2 separate regions of the Homo sapiens genome follow, and region 1 is linked to region 2. The links come from fine-mapping of genetic effects on gene expression. Tissue or cell type: whole blood. Region 2 holds a variant in brackets; the other region holds the start of a gene. All regions are shown on one strand. Distances are from middle to middle.

Region 1 (5,000 bases), 20 kb after region 2:
GGTTCTCTCTCCTCCCACTCCCCACCCCCACTCATCTTCAGGGACACATTCATCTCACTGATAACAGTGGTTGCCTTATATCTCCTATCTCCTGATGTCCTTACCAGAACTTTTTCTTTTTTGAGATGGAGTCTAGCTCTCTCGCCCAGGCTGGGGTGCAGTGGCTGGAGTGCAGTGGAGCAATCTCGGCTCACTGCAACCTCCGCCTCCTGGGTTCAAGTGATTCTCCTGCCTCAGCCTCCCGAGTAGCTGCGATTACAGACGTGTGCCACCACACCCAGCTAATTTTTGTATTTTGAATACAGACGGGGTTTTGCCATGTTGGCCATGGCTGGTCTCGAACTCCTGACCTCAAGTGATCCGCCTGTGTCGGCCTCCCAAAGTGCTGGGATTACAGGTGTGAGCCACTGTGCCCGGAGTCATCACCAGAACTTCTAAGGCTAGCTTGTTCAACCCACAGCCCAGGACAGCTTTGAATGTAGCCGGACACAAATTTGTAAACTTTCTTAAAACATAGGCCAGGCACGGTGGCTCATGCCTGTAATCCCAGCACTTTGGAAGGCCGAGGCAGGAGGATCACGAGGTCAGGAGTTCGAGACCAGCCTGGCCAATATGGTGAAACCCTGTCCCTATTAAAAATACAAAAATTAGCCAGGCATGGTGGCGCACCTGTAGTCCCAGCTACTCAGGAGGCTGAGGCAGGAGAATCGCTTGAACCCGGGAGGCAGAGGGTGCAGTCAGCCGAGACCATGCCACTGCACTTCAGCCTGGGGGACAGAGTGAGACACTGTCTCAAAAAAAAGAAACACAAAACCATTATGAGATTTTTTTTTTTGCGACTTTTTTTTTAGCTCATCAGCCATCGTTAGTGTTAGTGTATTTTATGTGTGACCCAAGACAATTCTGCTTCCAATGTGGCTTAGAGAAGCCAAAAGAGTGGACACCCCGGTTTTTTTTTTGGGGGGTGACGGAGTTTCACTCTTGTTGTCCAGGCTGGAGTGCAATGCCGCGATCTCAGCTCACCGCAACCTCTGCTTCCCAGGTTCAAGCGATTCTCCTGCCTCATCCTCCCTAGTAGTTGGGATTACGGGCGTGTGTCACCACGCCCGGCTAATTTTGTATTTTTAGAAGAGACGGAGTTTCTCCATGTTGGTCAGGCTGGTCTCGAACTCCCGACCTCAGGTGATCAGCCCGCCTCGGCCTCCCAAAGTGCTGGGATTACGGGCATGAGCCACCGCGCCTGGCCTGGACATCCTTGTTCTAAGGGCACACACCCAGAGGTTTTGTACAAAATAAATGTCTGGTTTTGAATGTCCTAAGAAACGGAACCCAGCTCTTTGTTCACCTCTTTTGTGGGGCATGGAGGGGATGCCTTTTCTGATTTTCAACATTTCTCCCTCCTGAGACCTTCCCAGGGACCCCAACATTGGAGACAGGATAGCAAGAATATCAAATGCTTTCAAAACATTAGCTGTGTTTGGTCGGCCAACCTATTTGCCTCTGTCGGGAATGTAAAAGTTATCTATGGCCAGTCCTTCTTAGTTCAAGGTAGGTCGGCAAACAGCCTTCTCCTTCTGCACAAAAAGGGTCTCTAAGATCCTTCCGTAGCACCTCCATCCCAGTTATTTAAGATGAACTAAAAAGAGGCTACAAGGTAAATAAGAGTTACCGAAGGAGATGCCGGAGAGACTAACCTCCTTGCACAACCAGCCTTTTAAAATTAGGGATTTAGACACCACGGGCAGTTTCCCTCAATAAATTCTCAGGCACTGGAACCAGAGAGTAGGAGGATGAGGGGTGAGCAGGACGCGGAGGCCGAAACTGGAGGCGAGGCGGGCGCAGGCCCACGGAGCACCACCCCATCCCCTAAGCAGCGACTAATAAAGACGGCAGCCTCCGGAATCACTTTCGCCCCCCTCCCTGGCAGCTTCCCCACCGAGTCAGCAGCTTACTTAAGCACGCGCTGCCCAGAGATGCAAAAGGCCCCCTTATGACCACGGCGCTGCCCACCCAGCATTCGGGCAGCCTGGACTCCCACAAAACCCAGAGTTGCGCCCCAATCACCACCCCTTTGCAGCCCCTGGTTCCCTCCCCAGCGGCGCCCCACCACCCACCTCTCCCCTAAGGCCATTCAACTCAGTCCCTCCTCGGGGCCCCTCAGCTTTTGCCCCTCCAGTTCCTCCGTGTCATGACTCTCGCCCTCCTGAGCCTCCCACACCTGGCACCGCCCCCACCCTACCCGACCCCGGCCCGGCCTGGCCCCGCCGGCCTTACCTGGCGGCGGCTGCCGCTCGCCCTCAGCCATCTTGCTCCGGCCAGGAGCCGACCCGGATGCTTGCAGTCCCCTCTCGCCTTTCACTCTTGCACCCACCCTTCCTCTCCCCGGCTCCACCAAAGGCTCCGAGCTTCCTGAAGACAAGTGAGCGCCGGCCGGCTATAACCGAAAACCGAGAGTTAAAGTCACCACAGCGAAGACGGCCGCCATGTCGGTGCGGGGCGCTCAGGGAGCAAGCCTATTAACGGCCGGCGCGCGGCGGACGCGCGGAACCGGGCGACGGCCATGTCAGTGCGGGGCGCGCGGGGCGCATGCGCGCCAACGGCCGCCAAGCGCTAGGACCGCTCACGGCCGCCCGAACGTCGGGCGCCGCGACTGCCACGATTGTGCGGGGCGTCAAGTTTGGGTTGTGCTCAGCCATGTTTTTCCGGGACAGTCTCCTGTCCCGGAGTACCACCTGTCATCTTTGTGGGTGGTACTGACCCTAACCCAAGGAATATTAGAGGACATTCCCCGGTCAACATGGTTGTGTTTTCCTATCACTCTAAGAGTTAGGCTCAAGGACACCAGACGGAGTTGGAAAGGTGCACACCACTACCTCCAACAGCTTAGAAGACATGTGGGGACAGGGGAGAGACAGCTGGACGGTGACCTCCTCCTTCCTCCTCCACAGGTCTCAATGACTCGCCCTCGGCCCTGCCCCTCTGTCCCCGCCCGCCGTGGTCCCGCCCCCGACTCGCAGCCAGCCTACTGCGACCCGCTACCGGGCGACGCCCCGCCCCTCCGTCCCCGCCCCTCCTGTCCCTCCTCAAGGAGACTCCGCCCCATCGATGCCCCGTCCCCGCCCCACAGCCAACCTCCCGGGCACCGTTGCCCGCCCGGGGCCCGCTACCGGCCCAGGCCCCGCCTCGCGAGTCCTCCTCCCCGGGTGCCTTCCCGCAGCCCGCTCGGCCCAGAGGGTGGGCGCGGGGCTGCCTCTACCGGCTGGCGGCTGTAACTCAGCGACCTTGGCCCGAAGGCTCTAGCAAGGACCCACCGACCCCAGCCGCGGCGGCGGCGGCGCGGACTTTGCCCGGTGTGTGGGGCGGAGCGGACTGCGTGTCCGCGGACGGGCAGCGAAGATGTTAGCCTTCGCTGCCAGGACCGTGGTGAGTGCGGCGGATCCCGGGCCTGAGGGCCCTGGACGGCCTGGGCGGGCCGTGCGGTTGCGTCCGGGAACGGAGACCGCGTCCTGCGGCCGCTGTTCGACCCGGCCTCCAGCTGATGGGGTGGGGTCAGGCGGGCGTCCCAGGTTTGGCAGAGCAGGAGATTGGGGCGCAAGGTCAGAAGCGGGATTAAACCCACGTCCTGGAGCATTCAGTTCCAACGACCCAGGAAAGACAAGGGGGACCCCGGCTTCAGTTAGCACCCCCACCCTTAGACCCAGAGACAGGCCGGTAGGGGAGAGAGACCAGGAGCATCCAGACCCTAGCTCACTCTCCCAGTTATTCTCCGATTGACACACCCGTCGCACGCTTAGGCCAGAGCCACTCCTCCGACCCTGTCCAGTTGGTCACACTCCTTTGGTTTATCAGACGGTCCCTGGGGAATTGTGTGTGGCCAGAGAAACACGCGGAGGCATCAAGCTAGAAAGGCCTCAGAACTGGCAGGTGGCAGCCCCATGGTCTCCCTCCCCTCCAGCCCCCTTCCCCACCCTGGCTGTATCCTTCCCTCCAGCCCCCTTCCCCACCCTGGCTATATCCTCCCCTCTAGCCCCCTTCCCCACCCTGGCTATATCTACCCCTCAGTCCTCCCCGGTGAGCAGCCCGGATGCTAGCCTAATTTCAGTCCCTTCCGTCCCTGATCCAAGCATATGTTGCTGGTGTCTCACTCTGTCTCAGACACACACTACGGGGCCAGAGGGCGGAGGGTGCATCCAGGCTCAGGCCTAGAGGCTCTTTTAGGTGTTGCAACACCCTGAGCCTCCACCGCACCCTTGTCACTGTCTCCCAAGCTGCATCCATCCCACAAACAGCCTCTAGATCATCCTCCAGGACCATCCGACTGGACTGGTTACCTTCCTGCAGGGAAACTGAGGCAAGGAGGGACTTGCCCAGAGTCCCCTGGACCTGCTCATTCAAATCCAGCCCAATCCCAGTGTCCTTTGGTTTATTTTTCATACCAAAAGTCCTCCGCTCTTGGACCCTAGCTGAATGAGCCACAGCTCAGGAAAAAATGAGTGTTCGTAGAGGGATGGCTCAGATGGGTCCCAGGAGTCCTGGAGAGAAACAGGAAATAGGCAGGGCTTCTGGCTGTCCCATCCACTGATGGCCTTTTCCTGGTGTCTGCTCCCTTGCACCAACCCTAATTTCAGGACCGATCCCAGGGCTGTGGTGTAACCTCAGCGGCCAGGCAGTCTCTGTCCTCCAGCCAAGTTTTCCCTCATCAAAACGATCTTCGCAGATTCTGACAGGTGGATTTTTTATTACCTTTTGTCCTGACTCCCTGGCACTGAGCCCATGCAGAGAAGAAAGGAAAGAACTTTCCAGGTTCCCTTCTACTGGAATGCCCCCCCACTAGCCCTCTCACCTGCTCCCCATTCCTCTACTTCTGGGAGCTCGGGAGGGTGGAGCAGCTTCTAGAGTCCAGGAGCTTCCCCTGCCACTGCCACAACCCCCGATTCCACCACAGCCATCGCCACTGCCACCTGCCTCCCGCTGAATCTTGGCTCTTGTCTTCTCTTTCC
Region 2 (7,780 bases):
TTGCTATTTCATAGGGTTGTTGTTAGAATTAATGAGTTATACATAAAGTGCTTAGAATTCTTCCTCCATATGGTCAACACTGTGTCAATACTGGCAGACATTATGTGACAATTCTTTTTTTTTTTAAGACAGAGTCTCACTCTGTCACCCAGGCTGGAGTACAGTGGCACGATCTCAGCTCACTGCAACCTCCGCCTCCTGGGTTCAAGCAATTCTTCTGCCTCAGCCTCCTGAGTAGCTGGAATTACAGGCGAGTGCCACCACGCCCAGCTAATTCTTGTATTTTTAGTAGAGACGGGGTTTCATCATGTTGGCCAGGCTGGTGTCGAACACCTGACCTCGTGATCCGCCTGCCTGGGCCTCCCAAAGTCCTGGGATTACAGGCGTGAGCCACCGCGCCCGGCCTATGTGACAATTCTTTCACTTGCTTTTACTTGGAGGTTAATTTGAACCTGTTGGAAAAAAGGCTTGGACACTCCATCCACAGCCAGAGCTTGATTAGGACAGGACAAGAGAACCATGAGCTACTCAGGAGAACCCTAGAGCACCCCATTTCCCAGTTTGAGGAGGAAACAGATGGCCCCTCACGCCCCCTCCTCCAACCCTCCTGTCCTTTCTCTCACCGATTGAACACCTTGAAGACAATAGCTATTTGGTCATCCACCCGGAGCACCCCAATCTTGCAGAGACAGCAGAGGAAAGCAGCGAAGGCTGCCTCATGCCCTGGAGGAGAAAAACAACCAGCGTTGACAGTAGTCCAGGTAAAGGACTGGGATTGTTTTAGTCTCCCAGAATCCGAATCATTGATAAGTGCCCCTCTGAGGAGGGTGGTCAACATGGAGACAATGAGACCTCTTCCCCATTCAGAAAGACTTGCTAGGCCCTTTCCTTTCAAGAACTATAATACCAGTACTGGCCGTGCATGGTGGCTCATGCCTGTAATCCCAGCACTTCAGGAGGCTGAGGCAGGCAGCTTGCTTGAGCTCAGGAGTTTGAGATCAGCCTGGCCAACATGGCAAAACCCTGTCTCTACAAAAAATACAAAAATTAGCCAGACATGGTGGCATGTGCCTGTGGTCCCAACTACTCAGGAGGCTGAGATGGAGGATCTCCTGAGCCCAGGAGGTTGAGGCTGCAGTGAGCCATGATAAGGCCACTGCACTCCAGCCTGGGTGACAAAGTGAGACTGTCTCAAAAAAAAAAAAAAAAAAAAAAAAAAAAGAACTACCAGTACTATAATTCCACTCGTAAAAGACCCGGGCTGGACATTTACATTTCATTACGTAGGTTTAACTCACTCAGCAATTCCACCATATTTACTGAGCACCTACTATGTAAGCAGTCACTGTCCATGTTACGCACTAGGAGACAGTGACAAGTAAGTCCTTGCCCTCAGAAAGTTTATGATCTATCAGGGACAACAGACATTATAAATATACAGTCACTACTATGATTCCAGCTCTGAAGGAGAAAGACAGGGTACTAACTGGAGGATATCACAGAAGGACCCTGACGTAAGGGTTCAAGGTTTCCCCTAAGGAAGTAACATCTAATCTGAAATCTGAAAGATGTGAGCTGGCAAGGCAAAGGGAGTGAGGGAAGCAAGAAATGCATTCTAGCCAGAAGGAATAGCATGTGCACAGGCCTTGAGGCAAGAAAAAGTTTGATCTGTTTGAGGAACACTAAGGAGGCCAGTATGTCGAAGGCAGTGAGAGCAAGGGAGAACGTGTAATGACAGGAGGCTACAGGTCACATGGGCCTTTTGGCCATAGGAAAGAGCTCAGACTTTACCCTAAGAGCAATAGGGAGCCACTGCAGGCTTCTAAGCAGGGAACACATGATCAGATTACAGGGTGAAAAAGTATCCTCCTTCCTTTCCCAGTCATATCAAACAGGAATGGTCTGCACTGTAGGAACAACTCACTGGACTGTGATTGAATCCCATTGTTCACAATGTCACACAAAACCTATCTGGAGGGAGGTGAGAAGAGAATGTGTCAGAGAATACTTCTGTCCTGTCTCTGGAGGACGAAGACCCCTCCAGGGCCTGGAAGCTTGTGAGCTCAGTTTCCTTCCCCTGCCACAGTTTCCAATTATGACCAGACAGGGCCCAGGCTCCCATTGTTCAGGGGTTCACATGCAGCTGGGGCACCAACCCCTGCTGACCTGGCCAGTCTTCCCTCTTTGATCTTTTCCTGCTGGTCTTAGTCAAAGCCCCACCCGGTCCAAGAGGGCCCTTCTCCAGGGCCTGCCTCTGTGGCTGGGGCTCCCTCCTGTGGATCACATTCCCCAGACAAGGGGAGGGCTGAGCGGTGCCCCATCTGCCTGCCTCAGGGAAGGAAGGCGGGCCCTCACCAAAGCAGAGGTCCTCCTTAGCTGCACAGGCCAGGCCCTGACCTAGAGAACGCCTCCCTTCTCTATTTTTGAGAGATGGGGTCTCAGCATGGTGGCTCGACAGGCCGTGCCCTGACACAGAGAATGCCTCCCTTCTATATTTTTGAGAGATGGGGTCTCAGCATGGTGGCTCCACAGGCCATGCCCTGACCTAGAGAACACCTCCCTTTTATATTTTTGAGAGATGGGGTCTCAGCATGGTGGCTTGCACCTGTAATCTGAGCACTTTGGGAGGCTGAGGTGGGAGAACAGCTTGAGCTCAGGAGTTCAAGACCAGCCCAGGCAACATGGCAAAACCCCATCTCTACAAAAAATACAAAACAATCAGCTGGGCGCAGTGGCTCACGCCTGTAATCCCAGTCCCAGCACTTTGGGAGGCCAAGGTGGGTGGAGAAGTGACCTCACCAGAGGTCAGGAGTTCGAGACCAGCCTGGCCAACATGGTGAAACCCTGTCTCTACCAAAAACACTAAAATTAGCCAGGTATGGTGGTGTGTGCCTATAGTCCCAGCAGAATAATCGCTTGAACCCAGGAGGTGGAGGTTGCAGTGAGCCAAGATCATGCCACTGCACTCCAGCCTGGGCAACAGAGTGA[G/C]ACTCTGTCTCAAATAAATAAATAAATTGCCAGGCTGGTGGTGCACACCTGTAGTCCCAGGTACTGGGGAGTGGGGAGATGCAGAGGTGAGAGGATCACTTGGGCCCGGGAGGTCAAGGCTGCAGTGGGCCAAGATCACATCACTGCACTGCAGCCCGGGTGACAAAGCAAGACCCTGTCTCAAAAAAATAAATATATAAATAAAAATAACTTAAAATAAATTTTTAAAAAAGAGATGGAGTCTTGCTACGTTGCCTAGGCTGGTCTTAAACTCCTGAGCTCAGGCAATCCTCCCCCTCAGCCTCCAAAAGTGCTAGGATTACAGGCACGCACCACTGCACCTGTCTACACTTCCCTTTTAAAGTGTCCACACACTCCCTCTCCTCAAAGTCCAGGTCCCTTGGCTTACATGGACCACAGATCCAAACAGCCCAATAGCACAGAGAATGTGGCTAAGAGACAAGGGGTTCAAGGGAGAGGGTGTGCCACGACACTGCAAAGGCCACCAAGAAGCGTTCCCATTTCTCAAAGCTTCAGTAAGCTGCTGCCTTGACACACAGTAAGTGCTCAATTAATAATTATTTTGGTGATGATGAGGAGCTCAGAGACCATTTTCACAAGAACAGAAAGCAGCGCTGCGCAAGCACCATGCACGGGGCATCAGCTCCCCCTGGTGGACCACAGCAGAGCTGCAGCATCCGGGCCTCCCTGCATGCCTACGCCCTCCCTGCCGGTGAAGCCACCCTAACCCCAGCTGGCCCCAATAGGTTGCAGGTGCTTGGCGAATTCTTGATTGCTCTCACTTGCTCAGAGGGCCCAGAGACCACCTGAAGCCCAAAACAGAAAGCAGTGAAGCTAGATAAGTACAGAGCCCCACAAGCAGCAGATACCTGTGCCGTAGTCAATGCGCGTGGAGTTCCCCACTGACTCCTTTAGGTAAACAGCCACCTCAGGCACAGCAGCTGCCAGATGGGTAGGGACCACTGTGGCCACCAAGTTTTCTGCTTCCTGGTAACACAAGAGACACAAAGTGGTGGCAGCATATTAAGCAGCATCCCAGTGGGCAGGTGCCCAGGGGCAGCACCTGACTGGGGGCCCACACTGCCTTGCCAGGCCAGCTTGGTTCCTGTTCTGACAGGCCACAGAAGGAAGGGGAGGGACAGCATTTATTCTTCCACAGCAGAAGACTACCCAGGCGACTTATCATCAACTGATTTTTCCAGGGCACAGGAGTCTAGGGGCAAAACAGGAGGAATCTGGAAAAAAGCCTCAACCCTCCCATGTGGTAACTCACTGGAGCCCCACAGAGACTCTGGAAGGTCAGTGCTATGATTCCCACACAGGCCACCTTCCTTCACACTCTCAGGTCAGCAAGAGCTGGTGTCATGTGCCATCAAAAGACGTGCAGAAGAATGTTCACAACAGCACTGTTTAGAGTAGCCAAAAGGTGGAAATGCAATGGAAATGTCCATCAACAGTGAAATGAATAAATTGTGGTATATTCATACAATAGAATACTACACAGCAAAGAAAAAGACCTATAGCTAGACATGAAAACATGGATGAATCTCAGACATGACATTGAGCAAAAGAAGCCAGAGAGTTATACGAAGTTCAGAAACATGGAAAAAAATCAATTTATGGAATAGAAATCAGAATAATCTGGGCGATATCAATTGGGAAGGGGAGCACTCCAGCTAGAATGTTCTATTGCTTGACATGAGTGGTGAATCCATGGGTAAAAAACTTGGCATGAGTGGTGAGTCCATGAGTAAAAACATGTAAAAATCCATCAAGCTGTAAAGCTATGATTTGTCAGCTTTAAGATATAACTTAAGGCTGGGAGCAGTGGCTCACACCTGTAATTCCAACACTTTAGGAGGCCAAGGTGGGCGGATCACCTGAGGCCAGGATTTCGAGATCAGCCTGGCCAACATGATGAAACCCCGTCTCTACTAAAAACACAAAAATTAGCCAAGCATGGTGGCGCATGCTGTAGTCCCAGCAACTTGGGAGGCTGAGGCAGGACGATTGCTTGAGCCCAGGAGGTCAAGGCTGCAGGGAGCTGAGATCATGCCACTGCACTCCAGCCTGAACAACAGGAAAAAAAAAAAAAAAAGATCATGTACCATCTTAAGAGTCCAGAGGCAGGCCCGGGCGTCTCTTGGGAACAGCACTTCACTGGGTCCTGAGTCCTCCCCTCTGCTCTATGTGAAAATATTGGGCCAGAGCAATTAGGACCCAAATTTCCTTAAGCTCAGTTGTAGACAACTGGCATGAGCCATCTCCTGGAAAGCTAGTAAAAATCCAGGTTCCCAGTCCCTACCCAGACCTGTAGACTCTGCTTTTCTAGACAGGGTCTGAGATCCTGCATTTTTATTTTTGTTTGCTTTGAATAGGTAACACCTTCGTAAGATTCAAAAATAAAAACATCAGTAGAGGATCAGTTCAATAGACTAGTCCATCCACACCATGGAGTATGCAGCTAGCATTCCAAGTGGGTGTGCAATGGCTCCATCATAGCTCACTGCAGCCTCAAACTCCAGAGCTCAAGTCATTCTCCTGCTTCAGCCACCCAAGCAGCTGGGACCAAAGGTGTGCACCACCATTTCTTATTTTTTGCAGTAACGGGGTCTTGCTATGTTGCCCAACCTACTCACAAACTCCTGGGCTCAAGTGATCCTCCCGCCTTAACCTCCCCGAATTCTGAGATTACATGTATGAGCCACCGTGCCCAGCTATGAAAAAAATTCCTTTTTGGGGCCGAGCGTGGTGGCTCACACCTGTAATCCCAGCACTTTGGGAGGCCGAGATGGGCGGATCACAAGGTCAGGAGATCAAGACCATCCTGGCTAACACGGTGAAACCCCGTCTCTACGAAAAATACAAAAAATTAGCCGGGCGTGGTGGTGGGTGCCTGTAGTCCCAGCTACTCGGAAGGCTGAGGCAGGAGAATGGCGTGAACCCAGGAGGTGGAGCTTGCAGTGAGCCAAGACTGCGCCACTGCACTCCAGCCTGGGCAACACAGCGAGACTCCGTCTAAAAAAAAAAAAAGATAAAATAAAAAATAAAAAAAATTCCTTTTTATAGCTGCACAGTACTCCATGATATTGATGGACTAATTTATTTAAATAATCCCCTACAGATGGATACTTGGAACATTTCCAGTTTGCTGTAATACAGTGACTTAATAAACAGCCTTGTAGTGCAGAGGGCCGTATGTGCACAGTCGTGTTTCCCAGAAGATGACCAAGCAGAGTATAAACTCATTTGTAATTTTGCTAAGTGAAATTGACATTTTAACAAACTGAGATTTGTATATGCCTAGAAGCGCTATACAATGCAGGCCCTTCCCCAACTGGTGCCAGAACCACCCTCACTGCCAGCCCAGTCCCTGGCCTGTCCTGTGGCAGCCTCACCTCATCAAGTTTGGCATACCAGGTCCTGTATGCCTTATTCCCAAACCGAGAGGGCTGGTCCACTGGAGGAGTCTCATCAATCCACCTGTCCAGCGTGTTGAGAAGAGCGACTAGTTTCTCAATGGCCTGTGGAGGCAAAATAGAGGGGTCCAAGCTACAGAGCAAGTGGCTCCCGCTTAGCCACAGAGGGAAGTCCACTGCTGCCAGACAATGACCCCTTGGCATGGCCCCTACTGGGAACTCTCCCCCATCCCTCTTTCTTCCCCACTGTTCTGAATATGAAGGAGGGTCAGGAGAGCATGATAGGCTTTCCAGAGAGGGAAGCACACTAGGCTGATGGGACAGGGACGGGGTGGCTTTAGCACCTGGTTTCTGTAGGCAGCCTACCCATGGGCTGCTGCTATAGAGAAGCTAACTCCAGCCCTGACATCTTTTTAAAAAGACTTTATGGAAGCCTTTTGTTCAGTATGCAATACCTACTCATCATAAAAAATAGAAATATAAACAGAAGAAAATGAAAATGACCAGTAATCCTGCCACCCAGAAATACACTAAACTTTTTTTTTTTTTTTTTGAGACAGAGTTTCGCTCTTGTTGCCCAGGCTGGAGTGCAGTGGTGCAATCTCGGCTCACTGCAACCTTTGCCTCCCAGGTTCAAGCGATTCTCCTGCCTCAGCCTCCCAAGTAGCTGGGACTAAAGGCGCACACCACCACGCCCAGCTAATTTTTGTACTTCTAGTAGAGATGGGGTTTCTCCATGTTAGTCAGGCTGGTCTCAAACTCCCGACCTCAAGTGATGCACCTGCATCGGCCTCCCAAAGTTCTGGGATTACAAGCGTGAGCCACCGTGCCTGGCCTACACTAAACATTTTAACATACCCTTCTGTGTTATCTTCTCATAGTGTTTTACATGGTTTAGCATGGTGGGCCTGGATTCAAACCCCAGCTAAAACACCATTTAGCTGCTGTGAGACCTTGAGCAAGTGACTAACTCTGAGCCTCTCAGTTTCTTCGTCTAAAAAATGGGGCTGATGATAAATACCTCCGAAGGTGCACAGTGCCCGGCGCGGGGTAATGGTATGCATTCATCGCAGGACACACTCTGCTTTGCAGCCTGCTCCTTTTCCTCATGAACCTCATTCCACATCTACATATAAACATAATCTTATGACAACTTTTACTAAGTGAATAACATTTCATCGTGCCACTGCATTATAATTAATTTAATTCCTCACTGTTAAATGTTTGGGTTATTTCCACCTGTTTCACTACCTATTTCATACACAATGCTATGGTAAATCAGCTTGCAACTCAATCTTTGTGGAAATGCCAGATCATCGTGTGCAATGCTTTGTAGGGTGGCAGAGTTTGAG

Evidence for each region. PIP is the estimated chance that this variant, and not a neighbour inherited with it, causes the effect.
Region 1: CRAT starts here. The variant in region 2 is fine-mapped to the expression of CRAT in whole blood (INTERVAL, PIP above 0.99).

What each region holds. Positions count from the first base shown.
Region 1 is chr9:129,108,906-129,113,905 of GRCh38, reverse strand. It overlaps CRAT (carnitine O-acetyltransferase), which reads left to right and starts at 3,113. Exons shown (of 14, transcript NM_000755.5): 1 at 3,113-3,423. The coding sequence starts at 3,397. It overlaps PTPA (protein phosphatase 2 phosphatase activator), which reads right to left and starts at 2,491. Exons shown (of 10, transcript NM_178000.3): 1 at 2,275-2,491. The coding sequence starts at 2,305. RefSeq lists silencers at 2,178-2,227, 2,918-3,357 and enhancers at 1,755-2,295, 2,228-2,507.
Region 2 is chr9:129,127,738-129,135,517 of GRCh38, reverse strand. PTPA (protein phosphatase 2 phosphatase activator) reads right to left here. Exons shown (of 10, transcript NM_178000.3): 4 at 6,408-6,533; 5 at 3,879-3,996; 6 at 624-723. Among named protein-coding and RNA genes, the nearest start is that of PTPA, 20 kb to the right of the region's middle. RefSeq lists enhancers at 1,840-2,340, 3,434-3,988, 7,750-7,780 and a silencer at 3,541-3,742. The variant G/C (reference allele first, on the strand shown) is at 2,989.